Linked DNA regions of Homo sapiens. The protein of the gene in region 6 purifies or fractionates together with the protein of the main gene of each other region. This does not show direct contact. Each region holds a gene or a part of one and is shown on either strand. Other genes may lie near its edges.

What was found.
Region 1: the proteins of SLC51B (region 6) and RAB3D purify together in Homo sapiens (affinity purification with mass spectrometry; one large-scale study listed by BioGRID and IntAct). This does not show direct contact.
Region 2: the proteins of SLC51B (region 6) and TAOK1 purify together in Homo sapiens (affinity purification with mass spectrometry; one large-scale study listed by BioGRID and IntAct). This does not show direct contact.
Region 3: the proteins of SLC51B (region 6) and TMTC4 purify together in Homo sapiens (affinity purification with mass spectrometry; one large-scale study listed by BioGRID and IntAct). This does not show direct contact.
Region 4: the proteins of SLC51B (region 6) and METAP1D purify together in Homo sapiens (affinity purification with mass spectrometry; one large-scale study listed by BioGRID and IntAct). This does not show direct contact.
Region 5: the proteins of SLC51B (region 6) and ALDH18A1 purify together in Homo sapiens (affinity purification with mass spectrometry; one large-scale study listed by BioGRID and IntAct). This does not show direct contact.
Region 7: the proteins of SLC51B (region 6) and PRR15 purify together in Homo sapiens (affinity purification with mass spectrometry; one large-scale study listed by BioGRID and IntAct). This does not show direct contact.

Annotation. Positions count from the first base shown.
Region 1 is NC_000019.10:11,322,658-11,326,157, forward strand, and holds part of RAB3D (ras-related protein Rab-3D), read right to left. Parts: intron 2,929-3,500; coding exon 2,741-2,928; 3' UTR 1-2,740. UniProt on the Homo sapiens protein: The small GTPases Rab are key regulators of intracellular membrane trafficking, from the formation of transport vesicles to their fusion with membranes.
Region 2 is NC_000017.11:29,393,363-29,396,862, forward strand, and holds part of TAOK1 (serine/threonine-protein kinase TAO1), read left to right. Parts: intron 1-3,500. UniProt on the Homo sapiens protein: Serine/threonine-protein kinase involved in various processes such as p38/MAPK14 stress-activated MAPK cascade, DNA damage response and regulation of cytoskeleton stability. Phosphorylates MAP2K3, MAP2K6 and MARK2.
Region 3 is NC_000013.11:100,671,996-100,676,139, forward strand, and holds the start of TMTC4 (protein O-mannosyl-transferase TMTC4), read right to left. Parts: upstream 2,801-4,144; 5' UTR 2,749-2,800; intron 1-2,748. UniProt on the Homo sapiens protein: Transfers mannosyl residues to the hydroxyl group of serine or threonine residues.
Region 4 is NC_000002.12:172,002,953-172,006,452, reverse strand, and holds part of METAP1D (methionine aminopeptidase 1D, mitochondrial isoform 1 precursor), read right to left. Parts: intron 1-3,500. UniProt on the Homo sapiens protein: Removes the N-terminal methionine from nascent proteins. The N-terminal methionine is often cleaved when the second residue in the primary sequence is small and uncharged (Met-Ala-, Cys, Gly, Pro, Ser, Thr, or Val).
Region 5 is NC_000010.11:95,650,212-95,653,711, reverse strand, and holds part of ALDH18A1 (delta-1-pyrroline-5-carboxylate synthase), read left to right. Parts: intron 1-306; 5' UTR 307-334; coding exon 335-422; intron 423-3,500. UniProt on the Homo sapiens protein: Bifunctional enzyme that converts glutamate to glutamate 5-semialdehyde, an intermediate in the biosynthesis of proline, ornithine and arginine.
Region 6 is NC_000015.10:65,051,142-65,053,897, reverse strand, and holds the end of SLC51B (organic solute transporter subunit beta), read right to left. Parts: exon of another isoform or gene 2,384-2,756; coding exon 2,293-2,383; exon of another isoform or gene 1,909-2,292; coding exon of another isoform or gene 1,833-1,908; intron 933-1,832; coding exon 734-932; 3' UTR 501-733; downstream 1-500.
Region 7 is NC_000007.14:29,562,494-29,566,634, forward strand, and holds the start of PRR15 (proline-rich protein 15), read left to right. Parts: upstream 1-1,341; 5' UTR 1,342-1,884; exon of another isoform or gene 1,885-2,169; intron 2,170-3,039; exon of another isoform or gene 3,040-3,260; intron 3,261-3,691; 5' UTR 3,692-3,836; coding exon 3,837-4,141.

The DNA.
Region 1 (3,500 bases), on a different chromosome or scaffold from region 6:
TTATTTTTAGAAGAAACAAATGTTCCCATATTATTCCCAGTTTTTGAGAGAATCCTGAGGCAGCTCTCTCGGCTGCTACTTGAAGTTGAATTCTTGAAAAATCTTATGTAAACAGAAAGCTTAGGCCAGGTCAGGAGTAAAATGCAGTCAAAGCTGTTTCTCATCACACAGGTGATTACAGGTTAGCTCTGCCCTATTCAAGACAATCTGATCCATTCCTTTTTTTGACAGCAGTTTAGAGACAATTGGCCAACAAAACCAGCCTGGCCAACAAGGTGAAACCGTCGCTACTAAAAATGCAAAACTTAGATGGGCGTGGTGGCAGGTGCCTGTAGTCCCAGCTACTTAGGAGGCTGAGACAGGAGAATCGCTTGAACCCGGGAGGTGGAGGTTGCAGTGAGCTGAGATCATGCTACTGCACTGCGGCCTGGGCGACGAGCGACTCTCTGTCTTAAAAAAAAAAAAAACAAAAAAACCTCAGCAGGCCATACTGCATCTTGAGAAGTCTTTTTGAAGCTACTTTAGTTTGACTTTAGTGTTAAAGTAGCTAAAAATTTTTGACTCCCGCCCACATATTCAGATACCCTCACTTTGTGCATAGGATTTGTCCATTACACCTCAGTCATCTAATTTGTTGGTATAAAAGATACCCTCGGCTGGGCGTGATGGCTCACGCCTGTAATCCCAGCACTTTGGGAGGCCGAAGCAAGTGGATCACTTGAAGTCAGTTTGAGACAAGCCTCACCAACATGGTGAAACCCCTTCTCTACTAAAAATACAAAATTTAGCCGGGTGTGGTGGCAGGTGCCTGTAATGCCAGCTACTCGGGAGGCTGAGGCAGGAGAATCGCTTGAACCCTGGAGGTGGAGGTTGCAGTAAGCTGAGATTGTGCCACCGCACTCCAGCCTGGGCAATAGAGCGAGACTCTGTATCAAAAAAACAAATGAAAAAAAGATACCCCACTCCAAAGTTCTAAGGGTAGCCTCTGGTATGAAGAAACCAGGGCTCCCTAGAAATAAATCTAAACTTGAACCAGGCTTTCCCCCTCACACATACCCCAGGGAAGAGGCTGAGCTCATGAAAGCTGCAGGAAGTCATTTTGGCTTCAGGGGCTGGGAGAGCAGACACAACCTCTGAAACAGAGTCAGGGACGTGGGAACATAAAACATCCACTTAGCCATCCTAACAGTGCTGGTCCTGTGAAGGGGTGTTGGTTGGTGTTTGGGAGCAAAGAAAAGGTGCTGCGCCCCTAGAGTTTGGAATCTGATGGGCAGAAAGTGCCTCTAAACCGGAGGTCAAGATGTACATCTTCAAACTGCACACGTAACCTCTGAGCAGAAGCCCCTGGAGGTGGGGACCCCAGCTTCAGAGACTCCCCGGCACTGATCACAGTCCATCCCCCCCATTCACATAAGGTCCTGCCACTCTCAGGCTGTCTACAAAGTACAAGCAGTGACAGCAAGTTACTCAATCCTACCTCCTCACCCCTTCCGCCCAACCCCCAGCATCCCTTAGAAGTGACCCCTAGTTTGAGGCTGTGGTGAGCTATGATTGCACCACTGCACTCCAGCCTGGGTGACAGAGCCAGACCATCTCAAAAAGAAAAAAAAAAAAAAAGAAGTGACTCCTCCATTAGCAAAAATTGTCACATCCCTGGGCCCTGCCGATGACAAGGATTGGGAAATGGACATTGGGTCTTGAAGGGCCCCCCTCAAGTCGGAGCCCAGGTGCTTACATCAGAAAGTCGCCGACAACTGCCTGCGGTGGCTGGGAACGTTGCTTCATTTCCTTTTCTAGCAGGATGCATGATTGGGCAAGAACTTGCTTAAAACACAACCAGCTAAACAGCTAAACAGGGCCTGGGAGGGAGGCCCCAGCCCCAGGCTCCTGGCTCTGAGGTTAATTAACTTCTGGCCGAAAGCCCAGAGCCGGAGTGCTAGGGGTTGGGCGAATCTCTGCCCAGTCTAATGTGGTCCATAGTTCCAGAATTCACTTCAGGATCAGAGATGTGGTGAACACAGCAAAAACAGTGGCAGGGTCGTGGGTGATGTGGATCTTGGGGGAAGCTTGGAAGGCACTTCTGGGGTCCCTGAAGCCGGGGGGTTGAGGGGATCTGACTCCCTGTCCCTTCTACAATGGGAAAAGGCTGCTTCAATGCTGCTTTTCGCAAGTAGAGGGTCTGCAGGGGTCAAAGGGATCACCATCCCACCTTGGAATCCAGAAAGTTCGTGGGGGCAGGCTCAGAGACCAGCCTGCAGGACCTGAGAAAGAGGCGCCGCCTTCCCTGGATGAACTCCAAGAACCCACACTGTGCGAGGAAGATGAACCATCTTCCACCAGCTTGGGAATATCAGTCCTGCCCAACCCAGAAGAGACCTGGAAAATGGTTCTAAGCTAGAAGGCACCACGGATGCCCCTCCATCAGAAAGAGTGGGACGTGTCACCCATGGCCACCCTCAACACACCCTGGAAAGCAGCAAGCTCATGCACGTCAGTGTCCCTGGGCCTCTGCCTGCCATGCAGAGCTGAGTCCCCATGGTCCGCAGCCTCCCACCGGGGCTGCCTGAGGAACCTGGCAGCCACGGCGACATTGTGAAGGAATGAGCCATGCAGGAGTCGGGGAGCAGTTGACAGGAGGGAAGGGATTGCCCTGAGCTTGGAGATAACCACTGTGGCTCACGCCTCGATCACAGTCCCTGCCGAGGCAGGAGAGGGGTGGGTGGGGGGTTGGGGGCCATCTCTAGCAGCTGCAGCTGCTGGGCTGGGGGGCTGGAGCATCCCCCACGGCCGGGCCTTTCCCGTTGCTGCCTGAGCTGGAGCTGGGTTCCAGGGACTCGTTCATCTTCTCGCAGATGACATCCACCAGGCGCTCGAAGACCTGCTTCACATTGATGTTCTCCTTGGCACTGGCTTCAAAGAACTCGAAACCTGGATGAATGTTAAGGTGGGGACACTCGTAAGACCCCTGAGGGCAGAGTCTCAGCTGTGGCATCACAGAAACCTGGCTTCTAAGCCTAGTTCTGCTCTTTATCCTGCTGTGGGACCTTGGTTGTGTGCCTTTGCCACTCCAAGCCTCAGTTTGCTCACCTGTAAAATGGGAATGATGATCCTACCAATGATAAAAATCTGTGGCAGGCCAGGCGCAGGGGCTTATGCCTGTAATCCTGGCACTAAAGGAAGCTACGGCGGGAGGATCGCTTGAGGCCAGGAGTTCAAGACCAGCCTGGGCAACATAGCAAGGCCCTATCTCTACAATAAATTTTTTTAAAAAGTAGATGGGCGGCCAGGTGAGGAGGCTCATGCCTATAATCCCAGCACTTTGGGAGGCCGAGGCGGGAGGATCATTTGAGGTCAGGAGTTCAAGACCCGCCTGACCAACATGGTGAAACCCCATCTCTACTAAAAAGACAAAAAATTAGCTGGGCATGGTGGCACGCGTCTGTAATCCCAGCTACTCGGGAGGCTGAGGCAGGAGAATTGCTTGAATCTGGGAGGCGGAG
Region 2 (3,500 bases), on a different chromosome or scaffold from region 6:
TAACTAAGGACAACTGAAAAAAAAACAACTCTCTTTTTTCATAGCTGGTAGGAATGTTGCCTAAAAGTGGAAAAGTATGTTCATGATCAATTAGATAAATACATTATTAAGGAAAAATTGCCTGAGGGTTATTTCAGATGACCTCTGATGCCACTGTCAGAAAGAAAATGCTGAGAGCTGTTAGTCTGAGTTGATTCTAGATTAGTATGGCACTTCTTATGTTTCTAAATAGTTCATCTACAAAATGGCAGTGTACATCACTTCCTGTTCTTTCACAACTGGCTCTTTCACTGGATTCTCTTTTAATGACTTAATTTTTGGCATTCTGATATCTGATTTGTTAATTTGGTTATAATTCTCATGTTTTATAGGTGGAAGAATTTCTGAGAATCAGCTGGATTTAAAGGCTTTTAATAGTTTAAGATTATCTTGACAGTAACAAAACATTGCTTCCAAACTAAAGGATAGTATTGCAAACAAATTTAAACTCTGAGAGGTTTTAAAGAAGTACAGCAATGTACAGAATCAGAAGTATGAGGGCACTGAATAGAAAATAATTATCGTATTTTTTATAATGTCGATTTTGGGAGAAGTGAGGATATGGCAAGTAATTGAATGGGTGTTGATATAAAATAAACTTTCTGTATAACAAGGTGTATACATGATATTTGGGCCCATGTTACGATGCCATTTTAACAGTAAGAAAGCAACTCTTTAGTTACAGGATACTAGAAAGACTGGATGCTCATAACTAACCATGAGTATGATTTATTTTAATAATTTGCCAGTTTTTTTTTTTTTTTTTTTTTTTTTTTTTTTTTGAGACGGAGTCTTGCTCTGTCGCCCAGGCTGGAGTGCAGTGGCACGATCTCGGCTCACTGCAAGTTCCACCTCCTGGGTTTACGCCAGTCTCCTGCCTCAGCCTCCTGAGTAGCTGGGACTACAGGCGCCTGCCACCAAGCCCAGCTAATTTTTTGTATTTTTAGTAGAGACGGGGTTTCACTGTGTTAGCCAGGATGGTCTCGATCTCCTGACCTTGTGATCTGCCCGCCTCAGCCTCCCAGAGTGCTGGGATTACAGGCTTGAGCCACCGTGCCCGGCAAATTTGCCAGTTCTTAATAGACATGAATATTTAGTAAATCCAGAAGATATCTAGGGGTCAGTTGTTGGCATTGAAATTAGAGTTGAGATCAATCTGTCTTTCGTGTCTTTCACCTGGAAATAAAGTCTGTGTTTTGCATTTGGCTTATTTGTATATTAAAATCACTTAATTTTTCATTTGTATCTCTGTTTTGTTTTCACTAGTCTCTGTTACTTATAACAATTAATTGCACTCATACTAATTTAATCTTTTAGAAATGAGGAGCATTTTTGGTACATATTAGTTGAGGGTTGCTGTTTGGATGAGGATCATATGTGAACGAATCCCTTCAAAAAAGTGTTATTTCTGGGCTGGGCAAAGTGGCTCAGGCCTGTAATGCCAGCGCTTTGGGAGGCTGAGGTGGGAGGATTGCTTGAGGCCAGGAGTTCAAGAGCAGCCTGGGCAACATAGCATGACCCTGTCTCTACAAAAACAAATTTTTTTTTTAATTAGCATGGGCTAGGCATGGTGGTTTATGCCTATAATCCCAGCATGCTGGGGGCTGAGGCTGGAGGATCACTTGAGCCTAGGAGTTTGAGGCCAGCCTGGGCAACATAGTGAGACCCTGTCTCCAAAAGATAAAAAATGAAAATATTAGTGGGGCGTGATGGTGCGTGCTTGTTCTAACTACCTGGCAGGCTGAGGTGGGAGGATTGCTTGAGCCCAGAAGATGGAGGCTGCAGTGAGTTGTGATCATGCCACCGCACTCTAGCCTGGGTGACAGAGTGAGACTGTCTAAAAACAAAAGCCTGTGTGGTGGCTCAAGCCTGTAATTCCAGCACTTTGGGAGGCCAAGGTGGGCGGATCACCTGAGGTCAAGAGTTCGAAACCAGCCTGGCCAACAAAGAGAGACCCTGTCTCTACAAAAATAAAACAAATTAGCTAGGCATGGTGGTGGGTGCCTGTAACCCCAGCTACTGGGGAGGCTGAGGCAGGAGAATCACTTGAACCCAGGAGGTGGAGGTTACAGTGAGTTGAGATGGCGCCACTGCCTGACAGCCTGGGCGGCAGAACAAGACTCCATCTCAAAACAAAACGAAACAAATAAAAAAGTTTTATTTCTCTAGTAAAGTTTCGCATAAAATTGAGATGTTCATTAAGCAGAGTACCAACATATGCTCACCTGCCTTTAGGTATGTGTACTTTTTTTTTTTTTTTTTTTTTTGAATTTGAGACAGGGTTTTTGCTGTGTCGCCCAGGTTGGAATGCAATAGCGTGATCACAGCGTATTGCAGCCTCAGCCTCCCGGGTTCAAGTGCTCTTCCCACATCAACCTCCCAAGTAGCTGGCACTACAGGTACATGCCACCACGTCTGGCTAATTTTTTTTTTTTTTTTTTTTTTTTGTAGAGATGGGGTTTTGCCATGTTGCCCAGGCTGGTCTTGAACTCCTCAGCTCCAGCTATCTACCTGCCTTGGCCTCCCAAAGTGCTGAGATTACAGACATGAGCCACTGCACCCGGCCCGATTTCCGTACTTACTATTAATGGTTGGATTTTAAAAATTATTCTTCAGGTTTTCCTATTATAAAATATGAGAGGATACAACCTGTATTAGTTCATTCCATTCTTAAAGTATTTTAGTTTTTAGTAATAAAAATTGATGTTTAATTTCATTAAAGATGTCTCATACCTTCTAAAAATCTACATGAATTAAAAAGTTGTGTGGAGGGACTAGCAGCAATTATTTTCAGCTGGGACGTTTCTGTCATCATATGGTAACAGTTATTTCTGTATCAGTCTATTTGTGCCAGAAGCAGACTTTTTGTTCTAAAATACAGTCTAAGGCTATACCTTTTTGATGACAAAATTAAGTATCCTATAAAAGTTGGAAGAGTTTTTAAAATGTTAAGTACCTGGCATGTAAATAAAGTAAGTAAAAGTATAAATTATTAAGTGCCTTGCATAATAGATATACTGCAGCCTCCTAAAAATGCCAGTGACCGTTATGCTGTAGGTTGTTATTTAAATATAATGGCACTTAATTACCGTCTAATTTATCTTTAAAGCTGAGAAGGGGCTAATTTTTCCTTTTGATAAAATTATTTGATCAAATAGTTTTATGCAGGTTTAGAAGTAGATGAATTACTGTAACATTTAGAAAGACATTCAAAGTTTAGTTTCTGAGAAATATTATCAAATAATAGGATGGAACAAAACTTTCTGGTTTGCAGCTACCAATAATAAAATTGGCACTTACTATATATTAATGTTGGCTGGGCGTGGTGGCTCACGCCTGTAATCCTAGCACTTTGGGAGACCGTAGATCACTTTAGGTCAGGAGTTCAAGACCAGCCTGGCCAATGTGGAGGAAACCCGTCTCTACTAAAAATACAAAAAATTAGCTGGGCGTGGTGGCGT
Region 3 (4,144 bases), on a different chromosome or scaffold from region 6:
CCTTGAACTGCTTAGTCTTTCTAAGAATCAATTTCCTCACTGGCACAACACAGTACCACCACCACTTTCTTCAGAAGGTGGTGGTAAGGATTAAAGGAGAAAATGTATGCAAACAACTAGTTCTCATTATTGTTAGATTTTGGAGAAATTAGCCGCTGCTTCCCAGTCCCTGACTGCCTGTCTCGGGCGCACCCATGTTGCCAGTGTTTATTCCTGCAGATGGGCTGAGCACTAGGGCCAGCAGTAGCCCATCGGGTGACCTGGTGCGACTGAGAAAGGCGGGCCCTTCTTTTGGGCAGACCCGGGGCACATGGCTTCCTTGGTCAGGTGTCTGGCACAAACTGTACAACCATGCACAGTGACCTTGTTCCCAACTCTCCTTCCTCCAACACTAAACGACTTCTGTTCCTCAATGACCTGAGCCAGGCCTGGCACTCAGTTAAAAGAAGCCCTGTCTGAGCAAGGTGGCAGAGACGGGGGACCACCCTCTCTACATCCCTTCCCCCCTTTTTTTGAACAGGGTTTCACTCTGCCACCCAGGCTGGAGTATAGTGGTATGATCATAGCTCACCACAGCTTCACCTTACTGGGCTCAAGGGACCCTTCCACCTCAGCCTCCCAAGTAGCTGGGACTATAGGCATATGCCACCATGCCTGGCTATTTTAAATATTTTTTTGTAGAGACAGGGTCTCACTATGTTGCCCAGGCTGGAATCAAACTCCTGGCTTCAAGCGATCCTCCTGCCTCAGCCTTCCAAAGCATGGGGATTACAGGTGTGAACCACCGTGCCCGGCCTCCACCATTTTTTACAGTCAGGACATGAAATAGGAAAGGATGCTCTGTTTTCTTCCAGATGGGCCCTAGGTTGAACTTTCTGGTCCCTCTTCTCCACATGATGTCCTGCCTGGGCTCCCTGGCTCCTCTGCCATAGCTGGATCGTTAGTTCACCTTATGAAGCAACAAAAAGAGAGACCCACTGTGGCCTCTGCTACAGGCCAAGCAGAGGGCACAACCCAGGAGGAATGAAGTCAGTGTTCTGCTCGCTACCTGACTCCTGCGACAGAATCAACTGGCCCCTCAACAGGGGCTGAATCTGGAACAAAGCAGACGTCCCTTTATCCTACAATTTCTCAAACTTCTCATATCGAGCCTCTGTTTTCAGGAGGTTAAAACAAATTAATCATCAGTGAGAAGGCCAAAAAGACCCCACACAGGGACCCCAGAAAAACAAATGTCATCCAGCTGTGAACCATGAGGGCCCAATGACAGCTGACACGGCAGCCTGGACTGCGGTAAACAGAATGGCGAGACCAAACCTAAATGTTTCCCCTTGGAAAAATTAGCAGCAGCCACCTACAGAAGAATATTCCCCTCCATGCATCCAGGGGCCTGCTGACCTCTGCCCAGCCTTTCTACCTCATCTGTAACATTCAATCACATAGCCAGCCATCCTATGCACGCTGAGAGGTGACAGCGCCTCTGGGAATCAGATTAGAGAACACAATCGTTTGTGACCCTGCATCCCTGGGCCTGGCAGTTTCCTGACTGATCAGACCCTGGGCCCCTCAAGGCAGGGGCGCGAGCCACCACCACCGCCCTCCTCCGTGCAGTGCTGAATACATGCTACTGAAGGCTAAGGTATCGTCCTGCTGTGACGGCCTTCCCATTTTATAATTCAGTAGCGCACGAGGGCCATGGCTGCCTATAGCAAGAATGTGTGTGGTTTGATATTCACAGTTCCACTGTCCCAGAAAGTTTCCAGTTTGCTAGCTTGTAGCCATTTCCCCTATCTAGGTGCACTGGCCGTGATTTTACCCCACTCCATCTGGGGCGCGCCCGGCGCAGACAGGACTGCAGAGAAAAGGGACAGGGAGGGGACCTAGTCAGTCCCTACTATAACTGTTTCTCAAGACATTCTCCCCATGCATTTATTTGCTCTCCCGGGGAAAGAGCGAAGTGTGGGATGACTCATAGTGGCTAGATCGTTCCTCTAACTCCTCCCTTCTTTTGTGTGTGGTTTAAAAAAAAGAAAAACACACACGCAGCCCATAGCCACAACATCAACAAGACCAGAAGCCCCGCAGAGTTCGCAGGAGGTGGGCAGTGGCTGCGCCACCTGCTCGGCTTCCCCAAACTCCGAGCCCACGCCGGGAAGCGGCGGCTCGGTGGCCCCGGGCGCCCGGGCCGGTGGCCCCGCGCTCGCGCCGCTCCGCTCCGCAGCCGAGCGTGGAGTAGCAGGCGCTCGCGGCGCGGCGGGGGAGCCGCCGCGGAACCCAGGGCAGGCGGCCAAGCGGCCCGGCTGTGTCCAGCCATCGCCTGCGCCGCGGCCAGCTGGCGGCCAGGCGCGGGGCCCCGCGGCCAGATGGCCGCTCCGGGGACGCGCCGCAGGCGCCGGGTGCGCCCGGGCCGAGGGAGCGCCGGCGCGGCTGTGCAGGCAGGGGCTGGGGGCGGCGACCTCTGCCCGGGCGGAGAAGCTCAGGGGCCCGAGCGCGGCGGGCGGGGCGCGCAGCCTCCACGCCGCGCCCTTTGTCCCATGTGCGGCTCACACAGGGGCCCGCGTCCCCCGTGACCCCGGCCCGGGCCGCAGCTCAGGTCCCGGAACCAACTCCTCCAGCAGCGCCGCTCTGGCCCGGGCCGCCGTGCGGGGCTCGGGACACGGCGGCAGCGGGGAACCCGCGCCCGCTCCGCGTCCAACTCCGCTCGCCCCGCGGCGCGCTCGGCCCTGCAGGGGCCGCCCCGCGCGTTACCTGCAAGGAGCCTGAGCCCCGGCCGCATCTCCCTCCCGGGTGCGGAAACTCTGGCGGCTCCAGGCACCCGCCCGGACCTGGCAGGGGGAGGGGCCGCCCGCCGCGCACCCGACCCCCCCCGCGCCGCGCCTCCCGCAGCTCCCCACGCGCGCGGGCGCCCCCCAGCACCAGTCTCGGCCCGCCCCCTCCGCCCGACCATTGGCTGCTGCTCCCGTCACTTTCAGGCCACAGCCAAGTCCCTCCTCAGCTCATTGGCGGACGCGCCGGTGACGTCAGGCCAGGGGGCGCTAGTCGGCGGCGAAGGAGGCGCAGGGACAGACGGACCCGGCGGGAGAGGAGGAAGCCGGGTTGTGGGCGCGGAGCTGAGGCGGAGGCGGGGCCGGGGCGGGAAGGGGCGGCCCCAGCTGGGTCGGGCGAGGCTGGCTGCGGGAAACCGAGTGAGCCCTCGCTTTTCCTCCGGGGTCCGCGCGCGGGACCCTATTTCTGGCCTGTCTCGCGCTTCGCCTGCGCGGTGGTCTCCACGCTGGGACTGCGGCGTCCTCGCAGAACAGCCAGAACTCCACTTCTTCCTGTCCGGGAGGAGTTGTTTAAAACATGCGTATCTCCACCTTCTGCTTCTTAGAACAGAACTGACTGAAGCCGTGTTCTTCCCGCCGAGACCATGCCGCCCCATCGACCCTGCTGCGGCCAGAGCCACCCAGGGCGGGCCCACTCACCGCAGGCTCGGGCCACTTGGTTCCAAACCTCCACTCCCATCCAGGGGCCCGGCACACCCACCACACTCCCACTCTCAGAGGTCTTTGCCGCCTGCTTCAGGAGAAAAGAGAAACTTCCACTTTCCACCGGCAAAACTGCACACCTGCTCCCTCCATCACCGAGCCCCCCCCCCCACCTTCTGTTTTTCCAGTATCGCAGAATCCGATCCGTTGCTCCCTCTGGACTGGAATCCGTATCCTCGGCATTTCATCATTCCAAGATTCTCTACTCCACGTACCCTTGCTGCCACCCTCTTCTACTTTCCATCGCTGAAGTTGGTGAAAGAGGCGCCTGCCCCCAGTTTTGTGGTCTCTCAACTCCACGTGTTCGTTTTCACACTCGGTGAAATTGCCTTTTTAATTGTCGCAAGTAGCATCCACATCACTAAAGTCAAAGGACACTCTCCTTTCTCGTGTTAACTGATCTGAGCAAAATTCCTTCTTTCTCCTTAAAACACGTCTTCCTGTGGCGGGGGTGCTCCACTTTCCTGTCTGTCCCCAGTCTTGGCGTGCTTGTCTACTCTGGGTGACCACCAAATAACAGAGTTTTCAAGGTCTCAGACCTTTCCTCTTACTCCACAATTTTTCCCTGAATGATTTAACCTGCTGTCAACATTTAAATCAATATATCCCAAATTTGC
Region 4 (3,500 bases), on a different chromosome or scaffold from region 6:
CCAGCACTTTGGGAGGCCAAGGCAGGCAGATCACGAGGTCAGGAGATCGAGACCAGCCTGGCTAACACGGTGAAACCCCATCTCTACTAAAAATACAAAAAATTAGCTGGGCGTGGTGGCAGGTGCCTGTAGTCCCAGCTACTTGGGAGGCTGAGGCAGGAGAATGGCATGAACCTGGGAGGCGGAGCTTGCAGTGAGCCGAGATCCCGCCACTGCACTCCAGCCTGGGTGACAGAGCGAGACTTCGTCTCAAAAAAAAAAAAAAACAAAAACTATAAATATCTGCTTGTATGTCATACTCTGTGTGTATACATGTTATATACACTTAGACACATGTATACACATATACAGAAATATTGATATTTTATTTACAAAATGTGAGTAGCTTATATTGTTTTATAACTTGCTTTTCCATAATAATGTATTTTGTGGACATCATTCCATACCAACAAATGCAGGTCAATATATTTTTTTTTAATGACTGCAAAGCATTCATCACTGAGGGTCTATATGCCCTGTAGTATACATTGAAATTTCATAATTTCAATGGGAGACAGAACTATTTGTAGTACAGAAAGCTGTTTCACATCAACCAATGAGTAGATAAATAAAATGTGTTATACATGGTAGCTTATGCCTGTAATCCCAGCACTTTGGGAGGCCGAGGTGGGTGGATCATTTGGGTCAGGAGTTTGAGATCAGCCTGGCCAACATGGTGAAATCCCGCCTCTACAAAAAAATACAAAAATTAGCCGGGCATGGTGGCGGGTGCCTGTAGTCCCAGCTATTCAGGAGGCTAAGGCAAGAGAATTGCTTGAACCCGGGAGGCGGAGGTTGCAGTGAGCCGAGACTGCACCACTGCACTCCAGCCTGGGTGACAGAGAGACTCTCAAAAAAAAAAAAAAAGATATATATATATATATATATATATAAAATACAGACACCATGGAATACTACTCAGACATAAAAAGGAACAAAATAATGTCTTTTGTAGCAACTTGGATGGAACTGGAGGCCATTATTCTAAGTGAAGTAACTCAGGAAAAGAAAACCAAATACTGTATGTTCTCACTTATAAGTGGGAGCTAAGCTATGAGGATGCAAAAACATACAGAGCAATATAATGAACTCTAGGGATGCAGGGGTGAAGGATAAAAGAAAACATACTGGGTACAATGTACACTGCTTGGGTGATGGGTGCACTAAAATCTCAGAATTCACTTCTAAAGTATTCATCCATGTAACGAAAAACTACCTGTACCCCAAAAACTATTGAAATAAAACATAAAATAAATAAATAAGAAAGAAAGAAAACTGTTTCACAGCCTGGGCAGCATGATGATAACCTGTCTTTATGAAAAAAACAAAAAATTAGCTGGGTGTGGTGGTGTGCGCCTAGCCACTCAGGAGGTTGAGGTGGGAGGACTGGTCGAGCCCAGGAAGTTGAGGCTGTAGTGACCTGTGATTGTGCCACTGCACTCCAGCCTTCGTGACAGAGACCCTGAAAAAAGAAAAAAAAAAGGAAGGAAGAAAGGAAGCAAGCTAGCTGTTTCAAATAGAGGAAAACACATACAAGTATGTATGGATTTAGGAGCACTTTAGAGCCAAGGTTTCATAAGTATTTCTTAATCTGTGTAGTAACATGCCATATTATAATAGAATTGGAATGTATTTGTTAAAAGATGTCATACGGCAAAACTCCATTTCCATTCTCTGGATGTCAACAGGAATGTAGTCTAAGTAATAGGAAGCTAAACTTAGGAATGTTAGCATTTTCCAAATCACCCATGAATTGCATCCCAAAAGTTTAATTATAAGTTGGTTTGGCGGCTGGGCGTGGTGGCTCATGCTTATAATCCCAGCACTTTGGGAGGCCGAGGCAGGTGCGTCACCAGAGGTCAGGAGTTCGAGACCAGCCTGGCCAACATGGCGAAACCCCCGTCTCTACTAAAAATACAAAAATTAGCCGGGCATGGCGGCGGATGCTTGTAATTCCCACTACTCAAGAGGCTGAGGCAGGAGAATCACTTGAATTTGGGTGGCAGAGGTTGCAGTGGGCCAAGATCACACCACTGCATTCCAGCCTGGGCAACAGAGCAAGACTCCGTCTCGATTTAAAAAAAAAAAGAAAAGTTGGTTTGGCAAAACTGAGCAGACATTTTCCTGCAGAAGCTATACAAGATAGCAAGGATCTCAGGGCAGTTGGCAAAAGTTTAAAGTACTTAACTCATGATGTATAACAGCCCCTCCCCTGCCTGGCTATTACATTTTTGAAAAACCACTAAGGTAACAAAATTCTCAGTGGAGGAGTCTAGGGCCTTACAGTCACAAGTGAACAAAAGTACTTCTAAGTTTTTTTTATATTTGTTAAAAATAAGTAAATGGCCAGGTGCGGTGGTTCATGCCTGTAATCCCAGCACTGTGGGAGGCTGAGGCAGGCGGATCACTTGAAGTCAGAAGTTCAAGAGAGACCAGCCTGGCCAACATGGCAAAACCCCGTGTCTACTTAAAAATACAAAAATTAGCCAGGCGTGGTGGTGGGCACCTGTGGTCCCAGCTACTCGGGAGGCTGAGGCAGGAGAATCACTTCAACCCGGGAGGCAGAGGTTGCAGTGAGCCAAGATCGCACCACTGCACTTCACCCTGTGCTACAGGGCGAGACTCTGTCTCAAAAAAAAAAGAAAGAAAATATGCCCTCTTACTTGCTGTATTAGTCTGTTCTCACACTGCTATGAAGAAATTCCTGAGACTGGGTAATTTATAAAGAAAAGGGGTTTAATTGACTCACAGTTCTGCATGGCTCGGGAGGCCTCAGGAAATGTATAATCATGGCAGAAGGCACCTCTTCACAGGGTGGCAGGAGAGAGAATGAGTGCAAGCAGGAGAAAATGCCAGACGCTTATAAAACTATCAGATCTCCTGAGACTCACTCATTATCACAAGAACAGAATGGGGGAAACTATCCCCATGATCCAATTACCTCTACCTGGTCCTGCCCTTGACACATGGGGATTATTACAATTCAAGCTGAGATTTCCTTGTTCCTCTTCATATTCACTGGGATCTTGCTTCGTGGCCCGAGCTAGACCTGGGATTCCAGTGAAGCGAGGGCTGGGAGTGAGACTGAGATAGGAGAGAGTTCCTGGGGCCCCAGGGTAGGGATTCTGTACTCTGAGGAAGGGATTTCCTGCCAGCACTAATACTTGGGAGTATTTTAGTCCCTTAAAGGCCCTTGTTACCTTCTCTCTTGGTTCCAAGAGGCTGATCTGTCTTTTCCTCTTTCCAATGTCACTACTCATAGTTTCTACCCAACCCTCCTTAGACCATGATGGAAGAGAACAAATCTTAACAGCCTCTCAATTCTGTATACTTTTAATGAGCTTAACTTTGAGCCAGGTACTGTGCTTATAAAGACAGAAAGATACATAAGACAAAGCTTCTGTTCAACAAGAATTAATAATCTAGTAAGGAGCAGAAATGGTGAGAGGAGCTAGGTAACT
Region 5 (3,500 bases), on a different chromosome or scaffold from region 6:
ACCTGAAAGATTTTTTTTAAATTTGGAAGATACCAAAAAGAGCAGGTGTTTTTTGTGTCTCAAAATATTCCTAACTCTGCATTATTATTTGCTTACATAAAAACTAAGATGGTTGAGGCCTAGAAAGGAGCCACTTACTTTTTCTCTCTTTTCTATAATATAGAGGAGGTGGGAGTTTCCCTAATACAGAGGAGTTTGGAGCAGGAGAGTCAGATTTTTACTCCGAGGGTAAGGGGAAGTAGAGGGAAATAAAATGAATTGTCCAGTATTTTTCATTACTCACTTTTTAAAAAATGTATTCTGCAGATACTTTGGTTAGTGACCACATCGCAGCATGTTGAGTCAAGTTTACCGCTGTGGGTTCCAGCCCTTCAACCAACATCTTCTGCCCTGGGTCAAGTGTACAACCGTCTTCAGATCTCGTATGTACCATAGAAAACTTATGAGTATGTGGGACGTTTGATAGTCAAAGTATGTTTCAACAAGGTTTTCAAAGAGAAAAAAGATGTTTGTTTGTTTGTTTGGAGACAGGGTCTCATTTTGTCACACAGGCTGGAGTGCAGTGGCACAAACATAGCTCCATGCAGTCCAGACCTCTTGGACTCAAGCAATCCTCCTGCCTCAGCCCACCAAGTACTTGGGACTACAGGCACACACCACCGCGCTGACTCTAACTTTTTTATTTTTTGTCGAGATGCGATTTTGCCATGTTGCCCAGGCTGGTCTTGAACTCTTGAGATCAAGCAATCTGCCTGCCTTGGCCTCCCAAAGTGCTGGGATTACAGGCGTGAGCCATCGTGCCCAGCCAAGAAAAAAGGTTTAAAAGAGAGAGAGAGAAAAAAAAGATGTAATTTGGCAGAATTGGACAAAATTCTGCCAAATAGCAAGGAGGCAAAGAGGTAGTCTCCTGGTGAAATGTTCTCAGTGTTTGTGTCAATAAAGTTGACCCCCAAATAAATTTTTACATGCTTTTTTTTTTTCTTGAGTCTCACTCTGTCTCCCAGGTTGGAGTGCAGTGGTGTAATCTCAGCTCACTGCAACCTCTGCTTCCCAGGTTCAAGCGATTCTCCTGCCTCAGCCTCCCAGTTAGCTGGGATTACAGGTGTGCATCACCATACCCAGCTAATTTTGTATTTTTAGTAGAAATAGGGTTTCGCCATGTTGGCCAGGCTGGTCTCGAACTCCTGACCTCAGGTGATCTGCCCGCCTCGGCCTCCCTCCCAAAGTGTTGGGATTACAGGCGTTAGCCACTGTGCCCGGCCCCATGCTATTTTTGTTCATTACTCTTTTTTTGTAATTAAGTTTTAGATTTTGAGCTAATTATAAATTCACTTGCAATTTTAAGAAATAGTACAAAAAGGTCCCTTATACCCTTTACCCAATTTCACCCAGTATCTGAACCAAGGTATTGACGTTGATACGATCAAGATACAGAACATTTCAATCACCACAGGATTTTTTATTTCTCTTTAACAGCCACTGTCCTCTTCCCTATTACTAACCCCTGGCCAACATTAATCTGGTCTACATTTTTATAATTTTGTCCTTATAAAAATGTTATATAAATGGAATTATCCAGTATGTAACCTTTTGGAATTCTGTTTTCTTCAGCATAATTCTCTGGAGATTCATTCAAGTTGCTGTGTGTATCAGTTAGTTCCTTTTTATTACTGAGAAGTATGTAATGCTATGAGTGTATCACAGTTAGTGTAACCATTCACCCATTAAAGGACATCTGGGTTGTTCTCATTTTTTGGCTGTTATGAATAAGGCTGGTATGAACATTGATGTACAGGATTTTGTGTGAACATAGTTTTCATTTCTGTGGGATAAATGCCTAAGAGTGTAGTTGCTGGGTCAGATTGTAGCTACATGTTTAGTTTTTTACATAGTTTGAATGTATGTCCCTACCAAATCTCATATTGAATTGTAATCCCCAGTGTTGGAGGTGGGGCCTGTGGGAGGTGTTTGAGTCATGGGGGTGAATCCCTCATGCCTTGGTGCTGTCCTTGAGATAGTGAGTGACTTCTCACAAGATCTGGTTAAGTGTGTGGCACCACCCCCTCACTCTCTCTTCTTGTTCCCTCTCTCGCCATTGGAGATGCCTGCTTCCCCTTTGCCTTCTGCCATGATTATAAGCTTCCTGAGGCCTCACCAGAAGCTGAGCAGATGCCAGCACCATGCTTCCTGTACAGCCCACAGAACTATGAGCCAGTTAAACCTCTTTTCTTTATAAATTACCTAGCCTCAGGTATTTCTTTACAGCAATGCAAGAATGGCCTAACACAGTTTTATAAGAAACTGTCAAACTGTCTTTGCAGAGTGACAGTACCATTTTACATTCCTACTAGCACTGTATGAGTGATGCACTTTCTCTGCATCTTTACCGTCATTTGATGTGGTCACTCTTTTTTATTTTAGCCATTTTGATAGGTATGTAGTGATAATCACATTGTGGCTTTAATGTGCCTTTCCCTAATAGCTAATGATATTGAACATCTTTTCATGTGTTTATATCCTCTTCAGTGAAATGTTAGTTCATGTCTTTAGCTCATTCTTTTTGTTTTTTTTTGTTTTTTGAGATGGAGTCTTGCCCTGTCACCCAGGCTGGAGTGTAGTGGCGCAATCTCAGCTCACTGCAACCTCTGCCTCCCGGGTTCAAGCGATTCTCCTGCCTCAGTTCCTGAGTAGCTGGGATTACAGGTGCCCACCACCATGCCCAGCCAGTTTTTGTATTTTTAGTAGAAACAGGGTTTTACCATGTTGGCCAGGCTGGTGTCAAACTCCTGACCTCAAGTGATCCCCCCACCTCAGCCTCCCAAAGTCCTGGGATTATAGGCATGAGCCTCCACACCTGGCCTTCAGCTCAGTTTGAATTGGAAAGTTGTTTTTTTTTTAAACTATTGAATTTTGAGAATTCTCTATATCTTCCTGTCTTAGTCCATTTTTATTGCTATAAAGGAATATCTGAGGCTGGGTAATGTATAAAGAAAAGAGGTTTATTTGTCATGGTTCTGCAGGCTGCACAAAAAGCATGGCACCAAAAACTGCATTGGGTGAATGCCTCAGGCTGCTTCTGCTCTTGGAAGAGGATGAAGGGGAGCTGTTGTGTGCAAAATCAGATGGCCAGAGAGGAAGCAAGAGAGAGAAAAGAAAGGGCCAGGCTCTTTTTAACAACCATGTCTCATGGGAACTAAGAGTGAGGACTCATGCATTCCCTCTGAGACTGGCACCAGGCTGTTCATCAGGGATCTGCCCCCGTAATTCAAACACTTCCTACCAGGCCCCACCTCCAACACTGGGGATCAGATTTCAACCTGAGACTTGGAAGGGCCAAACCATATCCAAACCATAGCACTTCCAGGTATTAGTCCTTTGTTGGATAGGTGGTTTGCAAATGTTTTCTCCCAGTCTCATAGCTTGTCATTTTATTCTCTTAAGAGGGTCTTTCATATAGGAAAAGTTTTTCTTTTGATGACGTCAAATTTATCAGCTTTTGT
Region 6 (2,756 bases):
TATGTTATTTGGTGGTGTCACCGCAGCTTATACCAAGACACCATGGCTCAGACATGGGATCAGGACACACCTTTGAGATCCCACTGTTAGCAAGAAAAGGCTGTCCAAGGCAGGCAGTGTGGTAGTTGTCTGATTTTGTTTACCACACGCCAGGTCCCAGGGAAGTCTTGCACAGACTCTTAGCAGACAAGCAGGGAAAAGAGAGGGTCCTGGTGGGTGGAAGGATTGGGAAGGGGATTCTGGGCCTGGAAGCCTGCTCCTTCCCCTCTCAGCCGTCTCAGGACTACTGTTGGATTGCAAACAGCATCTCTGACCCAGTCTTCGGACTCATTCTGTAAATGGAGGAGCTGAGGTCAGAGGGGGGCTGTGAACTACTCAAGACCACATGCTTGCAGTCCTACAGGCTTCCCGACCCACAGGCCAGCTACGGATTTTGCACTTTTGCTCCAGGCCACTTGTGTGTGTATGTGTGTGTGTACCACTGCCATCTGAACAAACTATGCAATACCACCTGCTCCCTTCCAGGAGCATTTTAATAAAAGATTTTTTTTAATAACAGAATTTTAGTTTGCTTGCAGTTCATTCATTGTATCTGCTAAGAAAAAAAAAAAGAAAGAAAGAAAAAGAAAAAAGCGGCTTCTTGGGAGAGACTCTAAAACCTGAGAGGTTTCAGGCCACTGAGCTGAGCCCACATCATGTGTCTGGCTTAGGATGGGGCTTCTCTGAACCCTCACTAGCTCTCAGTTTCTGGTACATCCGGAAGGAAAACTGACAGCACATCTCTCTCTTTTAACTCAAGTTCCACCTGGGCCAAGTTTGGCTTTTCTGAGAGCAAAGTTTCTCTTAGGTTGTTTAGGCTGTTGTGATCCTTGGCCTCATCCAAATGCAGGACTTCTGGAGTTTCTTTTTCTGGTGGCTGCATCTTTTCTTTTCTGGGGGGACAGGGAACAGTGTTAATGAGGGGGGCTGAGTGGTTGGGGCAGGACTGGGTCGCCCAAATGGCTTAAAGAGTCTAAGGGGAAAATTCTCTATGCAGTTTGGGAGCTACTAGAGGAGAAGCGGCAATGGTTGGATATTCCTTCAACAGAGAAATGGCTTACCCTTGAGTGTGTGTCATCTCAAGGAATCCTTACTGTCACCTGTGAGCTCAAGTATCATTGCCACCCCCGCACCTTCCAAGTGAGGAAATGTGCTTCAAGGAGACCAGGTGCAGTGGCTCACACCTGTAATCCCAGCACTTTGGGAGGCTGAGGCGGGTGGATCACTTGAGGCCAGGTGTTTGAGACCAGTCTGGCCAACATGGCAAAACCCCATCTCTACTAAAAATACAAAAATTAGCTGGGTGTGGTTGTGCCTGTAATTGCAGCTATTTGGGAGGCTGAAGCAGGAGAATCACTTGAACCTGGGAGGCAGAGGTTGCAGTGAGCCGAGATTGTGCCACTGCACTCCATCCTGGGCAATAGAGAGACTGTCTCAAAAAAAAAAAAAAAAAAAAAAAGCCAAGGATGCACATAGCTAGTGTGTGCACTTAAGCCTCCTGACTCTTGAATCCTGTGTTCTTTTCACCTAACCACACTGTCTCTGACCTTGGACTGTCATCCTACTTAGCGTAGGTCCTTGTCACCACACACCTCATCCCTCACACTACTGCAGGAAATTTCTAACTAATCTCTCTGCCTCTAGGTGTTTCCTTCTCCAAACCAGCCTAGGCACAACACCAGTCATGTTTCTAAAACCCCATCGTGTACACATCACTCCCCTCCCCCAACCACCTTCATTGGCTCCCACTGCCCACTTCCTTAATAACTCCCATGTGTCTGTCCTCTCTCCAGATTGGTTTTATTCAAGGTACCCCTAGACTTCCTGGCCATAGTGGAGGGACCCAGCGGTGGTAAGCTGTCTGCCTAGAGATTCTGACTGGGTCGTAGGGGGAACAGGTCTGCTGTACCCATGGACAGCCACTCATCTCTGAGTTGACTTTGCTGAGGTGCATGTGTGCTGATAGGGTGAGAGGGGCAAGCTCGCCTTCTGAATGGCTACACTCCTCCAGGTCATGCCTGCTTCCTGTCCAGGGCCAGGGGGTGGTAATCAGGGACTGTTGCTGTTTTTTGTTTGTTTGTTTGTTTGTTTTTAACAGCTTGGGGTTCTCGAAGGACACTGAAGGCTGAATTTTGCTGTCCCAAAGGGTGGACAGCAATGACCCCTAAGTGACCCCTCTCTAGATTTCCCTCTGGGAAGGCAGGGCCTCTACCCCACAGAGACCACCCCATCCCCCCAGGACCAGCTCCTCACCTGCTTGCCTGGATGCTTCTTCCCAGGAGGACCATGCTTATAATGACCACCACAGCTGCCAGGGCAAGGATGGAATGATTCCAGGGAGATGCTGGGGAAGGACACACAGGACAGAGCCCTGAGGAATGGCCAGGCACCTCTCAAGCCCGCTAACAGCTGGGGCCTGGGCTCAGACCCAGCTTACAGCATCAACTGTCCTTTGCGTGGAGACCCTAATCAAAGATGGGCCCCTTGCCCTGGGGCACTCCCAGTCTAACAGGTGGGAGGGTGGAAGACAGTCTCTACTCTGGAGAAGCCCTAATCTAATGGAGGAGACAGTACTGCAGTTAAATAATAGTGGGGCAACAGGGGTGAAGGGCAGAGGCCTACGGAGGGCAGGAGACAGGTGGGCCAAGATAAACTTCACAATCTTCAGTTTTGCCAGCCTGGGCTGGACCTGCGGAGCACAAGGAAAAGAAAGAAGG
Region 7 (4,141 bases), on a different chromosome or scaffold from region 6:
GGCCTCCAAAGCGCTAGGGTTACAGGCTTGAGCCATCTTGCCCGGCTGTCTTTCACTGCTTTTATACTGCAAACAGTTTTCACAACAGAGATGCTCAGTTGCTCCACACCCAGTCCTTCAGGGGAGTTATGCTTGCATATGAGCTCAAGGAACATCAAAATCGTTTTTTGAAACAAGAGCATCCTGGAAGATGAAGCAAGCTGCACCTCTGCCTTCATTAGTGAAAATGCCCTGTGCCAATATCTTTATGTCAAATGAATAAAAAGTACTCTTGGCCGGGCGCTGTGGCTCACGCCTGTAATCCCAGCACTTTGGGAGGGAGGCCGAGACGGGCGTATCACGAGGTCAGGAGATCGAGACTATCCTGGCTAACACGGGGAACCCCGTCTCTACTGAAAATACAAAAAATTAGCCGGGCGCAGTGGCGGGCGCCTGTAGTCCCAGCTACTCGGGAGGCTGAGGCAGGAGAATGGCGTGAACCCGGGAGGCGGAGCTTGCCGTGAGCCGAGATCGCGCCACTGCAGTCCAGCCTCGGCGACTGAGCGAGACTCCGTCTCAAAAAAAAAAAAAAAAAAAAAGTACTCTTATGTGACCAGGAGTGCAATCCCCGGTTCACTTCCTGCAGTGGCTCAGGGCTGGATTTACACTGCCCTCGTTGGGTGGCTGTCCATGGACTTCCAGGCCTGAAAGAAGGAAATTCACATCCTCACTGAGTCGTGTTAAGAGTCTCAGACTGGCAGGTTGTGGTGGTTAAGACCGTAGAAGCTAGAGTCAGGCCCCCTGGGTTCCAACCCTGCTCTGCCACGTACCAGACAGGCAAACCTGAGCAACCATTTTCCCGTGCTAGGGTTTCCTCGCCTGTCGAGTGAGAATAATAATAATAACAATACCTACCTCCTAGGGTTGCTGTGAGAAATAAATGACAATCCACAGAAAGCGCCTGCAACGGCGCCTGGCTGGCAAACAGCGGACTTGTTAATTACAGCCTTTCAACTAAGGGCGCCTGAAACTCGCAAACATTTTGCTCGGGTGTGGATTCGCTCCCGTTAGTTACAAACTTGGGATCCCGGGACCCGGAAAGCAAGGGGGAAAAATAAATCGCGATGGGGCCAAGGGACAGCTGCTGCGGCAACTTTTACCCAGCGGAGCCCACCTACAGCCTCAGCCTCCGGGTCTCAGGTCTCCGCCGTTTCTTCTCAAGGAGTCGGTCGGGGGAGCGGCACTGCACAGCTTTTCTCCAATCAGACACCTCAAGGCTGGCGCCTGATCCAATCTCCTCCCCTGGAGGGTGGGAACGCGAAGTTCCTACCTGCACCTGTGGCAGCGGTGACCGCCTCCTGGGTTATTTTCTTTTCTCCCCCAGCTGCCCCAGGGTTCTGGTTTCCCGAATCACTTGGCAAATAACCAGCAGGTGGGCAGATGTCTTTTTTGCGTTCCTACGGACGCGTAGGCAAGTTCGATGCGCCGGAGTGAACAGCCAGGGTCCCATCTCTCAGCCGGCTCCCGGGCGGTGCTAGCAGGGAAGAGGGACGCGCCGGCGAATGAAACACTACTAGCCCGGAAAGCCGCCCTGGACCTTCCACCCGGGCAGCGAGTCTGGCGGCCCCTCGCCGCCGCCCCCTCCGACCAGAACAGACTGCGCTGCGAGCCCCGGGCTTCCGCCGCAGCGCGCAGCAATTGGAGGTGCCAGAGGAGACCAGCAGCAGCACTTGATTTAGCTGGGCTGCGGGAATTCCGACCTGTACACTTTCCAGAAGCCTGATCTCTCCAAGTCCGCGCCCAGGGACTCGAGCCCCGGCTTCCAGGTTGACCCGAGCGCGCCCCCTTCGTGCTCTCGGCCGCGTTCACCGCGCGAGGCCTCCGGGTCCTGTTAAGCCCGAGCAGGTGAGCGACTGGGGGTGGTTCGGCGTCCGCCGAGACAGAGCCTGGCCCCGGGGGTCACCCTGGGGTGCTGCCTGGTACCTCCCAGGTACCCGCCTCCCGGAGCCCTAAGAGAGGCTGAAAACCACGGACGCTCCAGGACTCCGTTTTCTGTACTTTTGAGTAATTTGCCATCTTTTCCTTGCGCAATTCGTACAAAGCCCTTCCGTGCTCACAAAGTTGATGATTGTGAAGAAGAAAATGTAGGTTAGAGGAGAGGAAGCAGCATCAGGACACCTTACCACCACTGTTAGTAAATGACTTGGGGGTACGGGTTGCTTTTCCGATCTGCAAAGTAGGAGGGAATGGGATGTTTGCAGACGCAGTTGCTAATTGTGCCTGAGGGCGTGGGTGCCTTTTGTACCGAAAGAACTTTTGGCCGTTTTTTCTTGTATTGTTTTCAAGTCGCTGCCCGAGTGTGTCCTCAGGGCATCCTGGGGAGGAGCCGGTGTTGCGGTTTCGGGGCGCAGCCGAGGCCGCCCCGCCGCCTCCCGTAGGCGATCAGACTTCCTCTCCCTGGCGGTTCCGGGAGGAGAACCTCCTACAACAAACACCGCCGAAGTTTCCCTCTCCAGCGCGATCGCCAATCCCAGGAGCGCCCGGCGCGTGGGCTGGGAAGGAGCCGAGCGGAAACCTGGAAGTGAGCCGCGGCGCAGGCGAATCCTGCCGTTGCTGGTGGCAGCGCCCAAGAGACCCCGCACAGAAAGTGGGCTGGGAGTCTCGCTTGCTGTACCCGCACCTAAGTGCTCAGAAGCGGCCTTTCGCTCTGCAGAGGGGGGGTCTTAGAAGCTTGGGGAAGAAGCACATTGTTTCGGAGTTCCTTGTTGCGTTCTTTCTCCTTGGGAGGAGGGAATTGCACAAGGAAAAGAAGAGAAGCCTTTACTTTGTAACTGAAATTCTCCAGAGTTGAGTTGCGTCGTACAGACTCGGTGCATATTTTAATACAAAACTAAGGGAAGAGGCCATTTGATACTTGGCTTCATCTCAACCGTCAGCCGGGGGTGACTTCAAACAGACGCAAGATTGGGCTCTGGGGAGTAAAAGGAAGAATTAGGATGGCGGTTTTCAAGGGAAGTTAAGTCTAGACATGCTTCTTTGAAAGTCACAAGGCAGAAGTGGTCAAAAGTAGAATTTAAAAGAACCAAAACAAATATCATAAGCTTGTCCTTCTCTCCTACTGGGATATAAATTCTCCTAAGTATCTCATCGAAAAGGCTCCTGGGACGAAAGTCGATGGGGGCAAATCTTGGAGGGAAATTTCGTGACTGTTTGACCATGGACTAATTAATACCGTTCACCTGTAGAGAGGATGCACTTGGTTCCCAGCGCCCTCCTCCCAGGTGCTTATCCAAAGGGAGGCCGCCCTGGGTCGGATGGGTCACCTTTTGGCGTCCATCTACAGTCAAGCAGTGTGGACAGGGCGGTCATTTTCCCTCTAGAGACGGGTTGATTCAGAGGGGTGGGAACGTCCCTTGGGTCCCCCGGGCACGCTGACCACTGCACTGCACTTCCCCTGAAGGAAAGGCAAAGGTTGAAGCCAAAGAGTTCAAGGCTCAGCCTAGAGACCAGGTGATGGTGCCCTGGAAGACACTTCCGCCAGCACCCTATGGGGCGCAGTGGCGTCTAATGCTAATGTGGGCTACGTAGCTACGGGATTGGGTCGCTCCGACCCTGGCCGATCCGGTGCCAGACAGCATAAGGGAGGAAAGGGGACTGGGGGGGGCACGTGACTTCAACCAACCCAGTAACCAAGTTTTGTTTTCTTCCCCAGCACAGGCCGCTGCCTCAGCATCCACCCCGCAGCCCACGTGTGGCAAGCCGGGGAAGGGGTGGAGTGAACGGCCGGAGACCACGTGGAGAAAGGGGCCGCTTTGGCCCTTCCATCTGGGTGCCGGGAGCCCCTAGGCCCTCCGGCCATGGCCGACAGCGGCGATGCTGGCAGCTCCGGCCCCTGGTGGAAATCGCTCACCAACAGCAGAAAGAAAAGCAAGGAAGCCGCAGTGGGGGTGCCGCCTCCCGCCCAGCCCGCTCCCGGGGAGCCCACGCCACCTGCGCCGCCCAGCCCGGACTGGACCAGCAGCTCCCGGGAGAACCAGCACCCCAATCTCCTCGGGGGCGCCGGCGAGCCCCCCAAACCAGACAAGTTATACGGGGACAAATCCGGCAGCAGCCGCCGCAATTTGAAGATCTCGCGCTCCGGCCGCTTTAAGGAGAAGAGGAA